Homo sapiens: one gene and its partners. The gene in region 3 interacts genetically with the main gene of each other region. Each region holds a gene or a part of one and is shown on either strand. Other genes may lie near its edges. The genes, in order: GHSR, PARP1 and AKT2.

Region 1 (4,074 bases), on a different chromosome or scaffold from region 3:
CCAACATTTTAACAAAGATTCAGTCTGTCTGGACCAACAGTTCAACAATTTTTACTGAGCTCCCCAGTCATTTCTATTTAACAACTATCTGAGTGATTTTGTACTGAGTTGACACATTGACTCAACTGACTAGACCATTTATTCACAATAGTCCAGCAGTTTTTATGTGTTAGACACAACAGACACACTTACGAGGTAAAGTGGTTGTACTCAACCATAGCTGTGTATCCGAGTCTCCTGGGGCACTTTTTAAAACAATGCAGATTCCTTGGATGTAGTATAGACTCAGTCAATTTAAATCTCTAAGAGGGCGATCAGGACATATGTTTTATCTTCTCTTTTTTTTTTTTAAGTTTCACAGAGGATTGAATATACAGTTAGGATTAAGAATCACTGAGATGAATGATTCTATGCCACTTACAATAGACATAAGTAAGGCTATTATTAAACCAACTCATATAAATTATCATCCATCCAAGTCTTCATTTTGCCTATGTAAGATAATTTTTAATGATGTCTAAATGTTTAGATTGTTTTAAATTCAGAAATCAGGGAAAAATAATAACAAATAATTTTTTAGTCGTTGTAACACTTTAGTGATCCCCTTCAAATTGTCAAGGAAGAAGAAAGTTAACATTGGTGTTGAGACACCAATGAAGAAATTAATGGCTTGAAAATAAAATTGGAGGAAATTATTAAACTTATCCTTAAAACTAAGTTGTATAGTAGCAACTTAACTGCCACAGTAACAATGTGACTCTCGTAGGTGAGAGCTTAGGATCCCTTGGAGGACACTAGCAGGTTTATAACCTATGAGTCATATCACGAGAATCACCGGTCCAGAAAATAAAATCTTTGACATTCCTTGAATAAACTCTATCACTTTAATATGGAGGATCCAGGAACTGTAAAATTGGAAATATGAAATCATCCTGGAATGGCTTCTAAGAAGCCTTAAAATATGCCATTAAGTATGAAGTCTTGACTATAATATCTAAATAATAAAATATACAGACCTTGGTTTTGAAAATGCAAGTAGAGTTAATATTTTGCTGGGCTGTAACCATATTTATTATTACTTCACTTGTACCAAACACATATACTTAAAGAAGCTGAATTTGTGCAATAAACATTCAGCAAATCCAGTTATGACATTGTGCCCAGATGTTCCTGAAGGGTCATTTGGGGAAGTAGTGAATTCTGTTGGTTTCCACAAAGTCTCCTTTCCTCCTGTTGGAGCTTTGTTTAATCTAGTTTATCCTTACCTTATCCTAGTCTATCCTACCTGAAGAGGCAGGTAATCATAAAAACAAATGAGACTTCACTGATTTGTCACTGACTTCCTTACAAAGCTGTATGAACAGCAGCAGGGTAAACAGAATTGATGCAATTATCTGAAAAAATGCAGGGCAGAAAACAAATCACAATATTGAAAGAAAAATGAATAATCTCTAAGAGGATTATCCAAATTGATCATGTCTTTGGTTGAATTTACCGCTGAACGCTTTCTAGATCCAAACCCTGCTTTTCTTAATGTAACTTAGATATTCACAAATCCTACTTGAGGCAGGAAGTCAGTCCTCACTTTTAACGCTTAAAGACCACAATGGACTTTTATAAGATATCTCGATTTTTAAAGTGGAGTTTCTGGGCTGATATAAAATTTATTTTAGGGAAATACAAATATGGGACATTTTTGCATGAAAGAGAGAAAGGAGAGACAGGAAGAAAGAGACACAAAGAGATAGAGACGGTAAGAAAGACACTGACAAAGTAAAGGGGGAGGAGAGAGAGAGACAGAGACAGAGAGAAAGATTGAGAGATCAAAAACATCACTCAAGAAAGCAAGAGGAGAGAATAATTGAGAGAAACGCAGAGAGACAGAGGCCCAGAGAAACTGAAGAAAGAGGTAGCGACTCAGGGGGAAATAGAGATGGAGACTCAGAGAGAAGGGAGAAGGCACAGGGAGAGGATAGGACCCGCGAGAGAAAGCCTGAGCGCGCGCTGAGACCCACCCAGCATTTTCACGGTTTGCTTGTGGTTCTGGTCCCTGAGCGAGGCACCCACGACAGCATCGCCGCGCCTCCTCCGCCACAGCTTCCTGCCGATGAGACTGTAGAGGACCGTGAGACAGAAGACAGGAAGGAAGAAGAAGATGCTGGACACCCACACCATGACCGTGAGCAGTCCAGAGCGCACCGCAAACTCGGTGGGGCGGCACTCGTTGGTGTCCCAAGGGTCGGTGCCGTTCTCGTGCTCCACCCCGACTAGCACGAAGATGGGCCCGGCGCTGCAGAAGGCCACGGCCCAGATGACGAAGATGACCAGCTTCACCCGCCCCTTGGTGACCACCACCTTGGCCCGGAGTGGGAAGCAGATGGCGAAGTAGCGCTCGACGCTCAGCGCTGTGATGGTGAGCACCGTGGCGTAGGTGCAGCTCTCACTGACGAATTGGAAGAGTTTGCAGAGGAGGTCGCCGAAGTTCCAGGGCCGGTACTGCCAGAGGCGAACGAGGTCCAGGGGCATGCAGAGGAAGATGAGCAGATCGGAGAAGGCCATGCTGGACAGGTAGAGGTTGGTGGTGGTGCGCAGCTCGCGGAAGCGCGACACCACCAGCATGGTGAGCAGGTTGCCAGCGATGCCCACCACGAAGAGTGCCACGCAGGTGGCTGTGACGCCCGCCAGCAGCGGCGCGGGGAAGAGCTGCAGCAGCTCGTCGCCCAGCGAGTCGTTGCCGGGGGAAGCATCCCAGTCCAGGTCGGCCAGTGTGAGGTTGAACCCCGGCTCTTCGCTGGGCGTCGCGTTCCACATGCTGCCGGCTCAGCTGAACAGGCTCTGGGACGTGACTGCGCTGGGAGGCTGGACCGAGCTGGCTCCCGAGGAGGTCCGCTTAGGCGCGGGAGGGTGCGAGGGAGGAGCGGGTGCAGACGCGTAGGGAGGATGCTTGGAGAAGAAAGAGAGGGAGGTGAGAGGCAGAAGCCGAGGAAGAAGGTGAGATGGGGACAAGGAAGAGGGAGAGAGACTGGTGGTCAGTGGGTGAGAGAGTGACCCACTGCTTTCTCTGACACCTCCCCTTTCCCCCACCAACTCCCCCAAAGTTTCTCCCAACACATCCTCCGGCCGGCGCCCACACGCATACCTGTCACCAGCCCTGCCTCGCATTTGCGTTCTCGATCCAGTTCCATCTCGCACTTCCCAAAGCGTCGCAGCGAGTGGGGACCGCAGGGACCAGGCGCCGCGAAGCGGGAGCGTGAGGCGCTCTCTCCGAAGCCCTGGGCGACGCTGGACTAGTGTGCCCCGGAAGGACAGGTCACACCCGGGGGTGGGGGTGAAGACGACGGTGGCGGTGGGGAGGACACCTTTAGCAGCTGGGACCTGATTTCTTCCTCCACAAGGCTGCAGCTGGCTATGGCCCTGGTGGAAAGAAAAAGCGAGCTTGACCAACTCGACTTGGGAAGGGGGATAGAGAGAGAAAAGAAGGACCTTGTGTTTGTATTCATACCGGTGAGCACCAAAGAATAGTCTCACGCAGTTATAGGACCCAGGTTCAGCGATGTGACTACTTGTCCAAGGTCACACAGCGAGCTGGGGACTCGGGGACCAGTGTCGGATCTCCCACCCGGTTGGGACTTCTGAGCGCACAGGGGCAAGATATGTGAGTAAACCCTGTCCAGAATCCCAGTCCTTTGTATCACTCGGTAGTGGTAGAGAGTCTGCTGTAGGGTATATTACTTTTGCTTGATGCAAACCTGGTGGCGGGGTGCCGAGGTTGGTCAGGGAGGGAACAGGAGAAAGGAAAAAGGCAGGGTTGGAGGTGTGTGGAGGCGGCAAGTGAAGAAGAGGCTGTGAGGCTGGCGCGTCGAGAGTGTGCAGGAAACATTTTTTGAGGCATAACTGAGAGAGATCAGCCATTTAGTAGCCGTATTCCCTTGGGCAAGGTCTTCAACCTCCTGAGCATTACGTCTTTTTCTTTGAATTGCAATGATTTGTGCGGACCACTGGGGGTGATATCAAGTGTCAGGGACCACCGGAGGCACTCAATAAATAGAAGACGCGTTGCTGTTGAGAAGTAGA
Region 2 (3,646 bases), on a different chromosome or scaffold from region 3:
CAATGAAAATTATCCCTGGCTCAGAGCACAGGCCTAACAAGCATCTGTCAAATAGCTGATGTAATCTATGCTCAGTAAGCCTGAGTATTACGGAGGAGACTAGTTATGTTTTATTTTCATATTTATATTCAAACTTCAGAAAACCTAGAATGCTGGTCTACCTCCCTGTCTTTTAATTAAAAGGCTTCAGAATTGTAAAAAGAGAATAAGAATCCCTTCACGAAGAACCACACCTACAGTTTTCCCATCAGGAAGGTGCTCTAGGGGCAAAACAAATGACATGTGGTGTCTTACCCTGCTTGGACCCATAGGTCTATACTTTGTCCTAGGAAAGAAGCCAAGGCTCTTTCTTTAGCGATGTAAACACCTGGTACCAGACTCAACATACTCTCGCCCACCCAAACCCCTGCAACACTGCAGGGAATGGGCTGAGGACAATGGGGCACATGAGTGTGGAGATAGGCTCAAGGACCGGGCCATCTAGAAGCTGAGGCAAAAATCCCTCCTCTAGTTGGTCTAAGCGGGGTGTTCAGAGACTGTGTGTGCCAACACAGTCCACTTCAGCACCAGAGAAAAATGAACGCAAGCATTGTGTTTTTATTACAGGTGCCATCAAGCATTTCCACTTCTGAAATGGACACCGGTAATAAGTCTTCTAAAAGTTCACGCTACAAGGGTTTAGAAAAACAGAGCTCCTCTCTAGATTAAGGAGAGGAAACAAACAAACAAACAAACAAAAAAGAACTTTTGGTAAGACCCTCAAAAATAAATTTGTACGCCAAGCTGAGGTGCTGGCTTGGAAGGCTGCCTTGCAAACAAGGTGCATTATCTACACGTGAAACGCCCAAAGGTTCTCAAAGGACCACCAGCAGCAATGTCCGGGAACTTGTTAGAAAAGTGAATTATTGGGCGCCAGCCACCTGTGTTTTAACAAGCTTTCCAGGAGATCCTAACACACATGGAAGTTTGGGACCGCTGCTCTCAGGATGAGAGGTTAAGATGCTTGAGGAAGGCCTGACCCTGTTACCTTAATGTCAGTTTTGAGCTTCTCATAGTTGACATCGATGGGATCCTTGCTGCTATCATCAGACCCTCCCCTGAGCAGACTGTAGGCCACCTCGATGTCCAGCAGGTTGTCAAGCATTTCCACCTTGGCCTGGAGGAGCAAAAGAAAGCCCCCGACTTAGGTATCATGGTGAATGAGACAGACTCACCCAGGTGGCAGAGAAAACCTACATGCAGAGAAGGTCCAACACAGTGAATGGCAAACCCTCCTGCTGGTCAGGGCCAGCCTGTTACCTGCTGCACATATTGAGAGCTCATAAGGACTTTCTGGAATGTTAACAAGGCCTTGTGGCCTGGGGGAGTTGAGAGGTGGAAGAACTGTCTTTCCTCTCGTACATGCTGACATTTGGGACCTACAGTGAAGGTACTTTAGACAAATGGGTCCTGAGCCAGGAGCTGTCTTAAAAGGCAGGGAGGGAAAATGGGGAGGAAGATGCTGTTATGAGGGAGAGGCTGTCCCTCTCCAACAGCTCTTTCCCCAGTGGATTTGGTAGAACAGGGGCAGGAAAAACAGCTCTGCCTCCATCAATGTGGGTAGAAACCCAACTTCAAAACAAGGGCAAGAGGGTGGCCCTCCCAGCATTGGTGCTGCCCTCAGGGATCATGATGGGGAGGGACGGCTGCAAGGTAGTCACACCCCAGCCCAGCAGACCTGCAGTCCCTTCTGAACCCTTGCGCTACCTGCACACTGTCTGCATTGTTCAGGAGCGGAGGCTTCTTCATCCCAAAGTCGTGGGGGATCAGGGTGTAAAAGCGATTTGAGAGATCCAGGATCTGAGAGTCGCTGCTGCCCTGAGACACCGCCTGGAGAGGAGGGGACAGAAGGAATGCAAGACTGAGGGAGCAGCTCCAAGCCCCCGGCCAGGCTTTCTCTTTTAGCAGGTGGGTGCTGCAGCAGGTCCAGAAGTAGCGTGGTATGTGCACATGCCAGGACACATGGGAAACGACCAGAAGACCATCTTCCTGTTAAAGAGCAGGGCAGGACCCCCATCCTCTAAAAGCACTGCTCAACACGTGATGGGCTTCTCCCATGAAGTTTCATTTGTACAAAGAACTGTGCAGTTACAGACATTTGAAACCCCGCCACAACTATGCAAAATGTTAACTGTAAAATCTAGGTGGTGGGCTAATGACTATTGCTGTAAAATTCCTTCAACTTTTTGTATGTTTGAAACATTTTCATAATAAAATGTTGGGAGGAGGTTGCCCATCGCTATAAAATTCAGTCAGGCTCCCTGCCTCCACTGACCTTCATTGGAATTAGTTTTTACTGTACCTGGAGGTTGAGGTGGCCAGGCACAGAAAGGCTAAGCAATCCTTACACTCACTGCCAGTGTCACTTGGTGCTCTATATGCAAAGGGTGCACAAAAAATGCACAGAGATGGAAGAGCGGGGCCACTGGGATTCCAGGAATTTCGCAGACAGCCTAGGTGACCACAGGAAGGTCAAGGGAATATGAAGTGGCACCCAGCAGGTCCGAAGCCCCACGCCTGCTTCTCGCTGTGACATGGACTTCACCAAGTTGTACAACTTCCATCTGTGCTGCCCAGGTGGCTCTGGCAATGGGTAAGGATGCTATTCCAGCTCTTCTTCCTGAAGACTATTGCATGGGAAGAAGCTGGGGCCGAGGAAAGCCTTGTAAGTTCTCAGTCAGTAAGGAACAAGGAGAGAGGTTCACTGCTCAGAGCCAGCTGTAACTGAAGTTGACAGATCCGGTTCAGCGCCTTTTCTCCAGCACCAGCCAGAAAGCCCGCTGCCTGGGCCCACTTCTGCTTCCTGTGTGCTTTCCTTCTTTCTACAGGCCAGGCCTGCACCCACCCACAAATATAAGCGGAACCCTCCAGCCCCTCCAGGATGTAGCTGGAAGGCTCCGGGACTGGTAGACCTTGAAAGATGCTCAAAGAATGTTGAAATAACATGAATGAAAGAGGCTTCCATTTGATGACTTCCTAGTAACTGCAAAATAAACTCTGCCTAACTCTTAAGGACACATAAAATAAAAACCACAACACAGGTGACCCTTGAACAATCGATTTGAAGTATGCGGGTCCACTTATACACAGATGTTTTCAATAAATACAGTTAGCTCTCTACACCTGTGGGCTCTGCAGTTGAGAATTCAACCAAACTCAGATAAAAAATATAGTATTCTCAGGCCAGGTGTGGTGGCTCATGCCTGTAATCCCAGCACTTTGGGAGGCTGAGGCAGGCGGATCACTTGAACCCAGGAGTTTGAGACCAGTCTGGCCAACATAGTGAAACCCCACCTCTACTAAAAATACAAAAAAATTAGCCGGGTGTGGTGGCCCATGCTTGCAACCCCAGCTACTTGGGAGTCTGAGGCACGAGAACCGCTTGAACCTGGGGATGGAGGTTGCAGTGAGCTGAGATTGTGACACTGCACTCCAGCCTGGGGGACAGAGCAAGACTCTGTCTCAAAAAAGAAAAAGAAAGAAAAATCCCACCAAAAAAAAAAAAAAAAAATCTCAGGATGCGAGACCCACAGATGTGCAGGGCCAACTTTTCTCCTCCATGGGTTCTGCAGGGCACTCTAGGACTTGAGCATGAGTGAATTTTAGT
Region 3 (3,646 bases):
CTTCCCACAGCCTGTGGTGGCACCTCGGGGCTCTCGTGATGTCTGTTTGTCTCCCTTGCAGGGACGTCACAGGTGTCTTGTCCCTAGCAGCCTGGTCCTTACATTGTGACATTCCTGCTGACTTTTCACCTGTGGCTTTGAGAGCCACTGATGATCCTCGTCTGGGTCTGCTATTTGCTGAGGGTTTGCAGGCTTTCACTTTTCACTCCTGTGATTTTCTGCATTTATGGCTGGGAATGGAATTGCATTTCACAAGGCCTTGCTCCCCTTCGTCGGGGCGGAGTGGGCAGGTGTGGTGTTGCCCACCAGCCCCTCACCCGCAGTCTGTCTGCAGGATGAAGTCGCTCACACAGTCACCGAGAGCCGGGTCCTCCAGAACACCAGGCACCCGTTCCTCACTGTGAGTTGCCCTCCCCTTCCCAGACAGTGTGAGGCCAGCCTTTGGACAGAGCTCAGAGAGAGAGCCCTAATCTTCTGGTACAAAGCACAGTCTTGGGGTAGGCCAGGCGGGCAGGGCAAGGTGTTGCTGCGCCCTGCCAAGTCATCCGAACCAAGACATGTGGTGGGGGTGAGCAGGCTCGGGGAGTGGGAGGGTGACAGCTTCTTCATAGATGGTGGCTTCATGTAAGCATTTGAACTAACTGAAGATATCACATTATTTGCTGGCTGCTGTCTCTATGAGTTAGGAGCACTTAGCCCAGCTGGTTGAAGTGGAAACATTATTTTTTTTGTTTTTGTTTTCAGATATGCTCATAGAAGCAGATGTGTTAGCATTGTGTTGTCTGTCAGCCTGGACTGAGTAGATGCCTGTTTGGGCTGCAGTCTCCATCAAGGCCAGTGGCCACCAGTTAAATGGACTAGATTGAGGATGGCTTATGTATCATTTCTTTATCTCAGTTGCTGTCCAGGTATCCTATTAAGCCACAGTACTTTTTCAAATAAAATCTTATGAGGTACCTCAGTGCAGAAAACAGAATAGTTGAGTTGTCATGAGCTGAAGGACCCCCTGGTGGGAGTCTCTGAGGAACTCTCTGTAGATCTCCTTAGTGCAGTGGAGAACTACTGTTTGTTGACTGACAGCCTGTCCATCCTGTCATTGAAGTTGGCTCCCAAGCCTTTGCCACTCCCAGCCACAGCAGACATCACTTGTGTGTGTAAGTTGAACACATTTTACTGTAAAAACAAGAGCCATGGTTGCTCAGAACAGCTCTAGTTCTCCCTTGGCTGTGCCTGATGGAGGCAGAGGACAAGATGGTTCAGCATGTAACCCTTTCCTACCGCAGAGCCATGCCTTCACTTAATGCCCCAAAAGGTGCAGCCGGTATGTGAACCCCATATGGCTGACTCCTGGGGGCCCCAGCCAGGGCAGGGTGTGTGTGTGCAGAATAAGCAGGGCCAGGGCCCTGCCCTGGCATGGCTCAGCAGAGCCCTCCTCCCTCCCACCTCCCACCCTGCTGCCTTCATCCCCCAGGCGCTGAAGTATGCCTTCCAGACCCACGACCGCCTGTGCTTTGTGATGGAGTATGCCAACGGGGGTGAGGTGAGCCGCGGCTGCCTTGACTTTGCCCTCTGGGGCCTCCTTCTTTAGGGTGGGGCGGGATGGAGAGGAGCTGTGGGTGAGATGGAAGGGTGGAGGGAAATTTCAGTGTCATCTAGTGCCCCTCTCCCTTGAGGCAGGCGGCTTCGTCTCCATTTTGGGGGGGCAGTCACTGAGGCTCAGAGAGGTTAAGTGGCTTGCCCAAGTTTACACAGCTAGTGAGTGGGTGGGTCAGGTCCAAACCAGTCCAGAGAGGTGTGGAGAGGGCTGTGGGGCGATAGCACTGGGAAGGATGGTCTTAAAGGCCCCAGAGAAAGCCCCCAAGGGTTAAAACCTAGCAGCCCTCCGTTCCCGTGTCCTCTCGAAGTGAATTCCCGCAGCCGCTCAGCTTCCCCTTACAGAGTCGCCTCACTTTTGTCACCCACTCCTTGCCTCGCGCCTTCTCTGTGCAGTGGTTGGCACACCTGCTTTGGGATGCGTGGTTTGCTCATCTGTCTGATCTGGGCTTGCCCATGGCCTATTGTTACTTGGTCATGACGTGTGCTTCTTTTTGCCTCCATGCCATCCTCCCTCCTGTCTCGGATGTCTCTCCCATACCCTCTCATGGGTGCCTCCTGGCAGACCCTCGCCCTTCCCCCCAGCTCTGTGTCACTTATGAGCTTCTGCGCTCTGCCTTGATTGGTCCCTCTAGCTGTCACTTGCTGGTTCATGATACAGGTGTCACCACATCACTGCGCTGGGGCAGGGGGCTGGGAAGGTGAGGGCAGGTGGGTGGGCTGGGGCCTGACCTCCTCTCCCCACCCCTTCCTCCTGCAGCTGTTCTTCCACCTGTCCCGGGAGCGTGTCTTCACAGAGGAGCGGGCCCGGTTTTATGGTGCAGAGATTGTCTCGGCTCTTGAGTACTTGCACTCGCGGGACGTGGTATACCGCGACATCAAGGTTAGTGGCAGGGTGTGCGCCAGGCTGACCTGTGGCATGCACACCACATGGGACTCACACTGGGGAAGTTGGGCTGAGCTTCTGCCCTCATTCGCCAGGCTCCCCACCAAGGTCCAGGGTGGTGGCTGCCCTCATTCGCCAGGCTCCCCACCAAGGTCCAGGGTGGTGGCTGCCCTCATTCACCAGGCTCCCCACCAAGGTCCAGGGTGGTGGCTCTGTGGCAAGTTGCCCCAAGTAGGGACCTTCCCAAGCCTCCCATGAGCGCTCCTAGGCCACTAGCGGAGTGTCAACTGCCACAATACCTACTTTATTTGTATTTATTTATTTATTTATTTTTGAGGAGTCTTACTCTGTTGAGTGCAGTGGTGTGATCTCGGCTCGCTGCAACCTCTGCCTCCCGGGTTCAAGCGATTGTCCTGCCTCAGCCTCCCGAATAGGTGGGATTACAGGTGCCCGCCACCATGCCCAGCTAATTTTTGTATTTTTAGTAGAGACGGGGTTTCATCATATTGGCCAGGCTGGTCTCAAACTCCTGACCTTGTGATCCACCCACCTCAGCCTCCCAAAGTGCTTGGATTACAGGCATGAGCCCCCGCGCCCGGCCAATTTTAGAAGATAGTTTGGCAGTGTCCACCAAAGCTGAGCACCAGTCATCTGCCCTAGCTGTGTGCACAGGAGAAGTGGGGACACACACTCACCTTAGAAAGTGTCCCCCTCACTCAGCAGCAGGACTTACTCTAGCCCCAACTGGAACAACCCAAGTATCCACTGTGAGAGGAACAGTCAGATCCACTGTGGAGTGTTCTCACAGTGGGACGCCACACAGCAGTTAGGAATGAGCTACAGCTACACACGACAGTGTGGACGCGTCTCATAGGCTAATGTCGAGGGAAAGCCGCACAGAGGAGGTGAGTCCACAGTTCACAGGTGTGTCTGTGTGCAGTGGTACAGATGGGAAGTAGAGGTTAATTCTTGTGGGGGATGGTCAGTAACCGGGAGGGGCACACAGGGCCTTCCAGGGGGAGATGCCACCTCAGCCTCGCAAGTAGCTGGGACTATAGGTGTGTGCCACCATGCCTGGCTAATTTTTTTTTTCATATTAAGAAATATGGAGATGGGGTCTCGCTGTGTTGCCCAGGCTGGTCTCAAACTCATGGGTTCAAGCAATCC

Evidence for each region.
Region 1: changes in AKT2 (region 3) and GHSR together harm fitness less than expected from each alone (positive genetic interaction), as found in Homo sapiens cells (one large-scale study listed by BioGRID).
Region 2: changes in AKT2 (region 3) and PARP1 together harm fitness less than expected from each alone (positive genetic interaction), as found in Homo sapiens cells (one large-scale study listed by BioGRID).

What each region holds. Positions count from the first base shown.
Region 1 is NC_000003.12:172,445,603-172,449,676, forward strand, and holds the start of GHSR (growth hormone secretagogue receptor type 1), read right to left. Parts: upstream 2,855-4,074; 5' UTR 2,812-2,854; coding exon 2,016-2,811; coding exon of another isoform or gene 1,942-2,015; exon of another isoform or gene 1,941-1,941; intron 1-1,940. UniProt on the Homo sapiens protein: Receptor for ghrelin, coupled to G-alpha-11 proteins. Stimulates growth hormone secretion. Also binds other growth hormone releasing peptides (GHRP) (e.g. Met-enkephalin and GHRP-6) as well as non-peptide, low molecular weight secretagogues (e.g.
Region 2 is NC_000001.11:226,366,453-226,370,098, forward strand, and holds part of PARP1 (poly [ADP-ribose] polymerase 1), read right to left. Parts: intron 1,870-3,646; coding exon 1,747-1,869; intron 1,157-1,746; coding exon 1,028-1,156; intron 1-1,027. UniProt on the Homo sapiens protein: Poly-ADP-ribosyltransferase that mediates poly-ADP-ribosylation of proteins and plays a key role in DNA repair.
Region 3 is NC_000019.10:40,236,799-40,240,444, reverse strand, and holds part of AKT2 (RAC-beta serine/threonine-protein kinase), read left to right. Parts: intron 1-334; coding exon 335-400; intron 401-1,471; coding exon 1,472-1,540; intron 1,541-2,353; coding exon 2,354-2,476; intron 2,477-3,646. UniProt on the Homo sapiens protein: Serine/threonine kinase closely related to AKT1 and AKT3. All 3 enzymes, AKT1, AKT2 and AKT3, are collectively known as AKT kinase.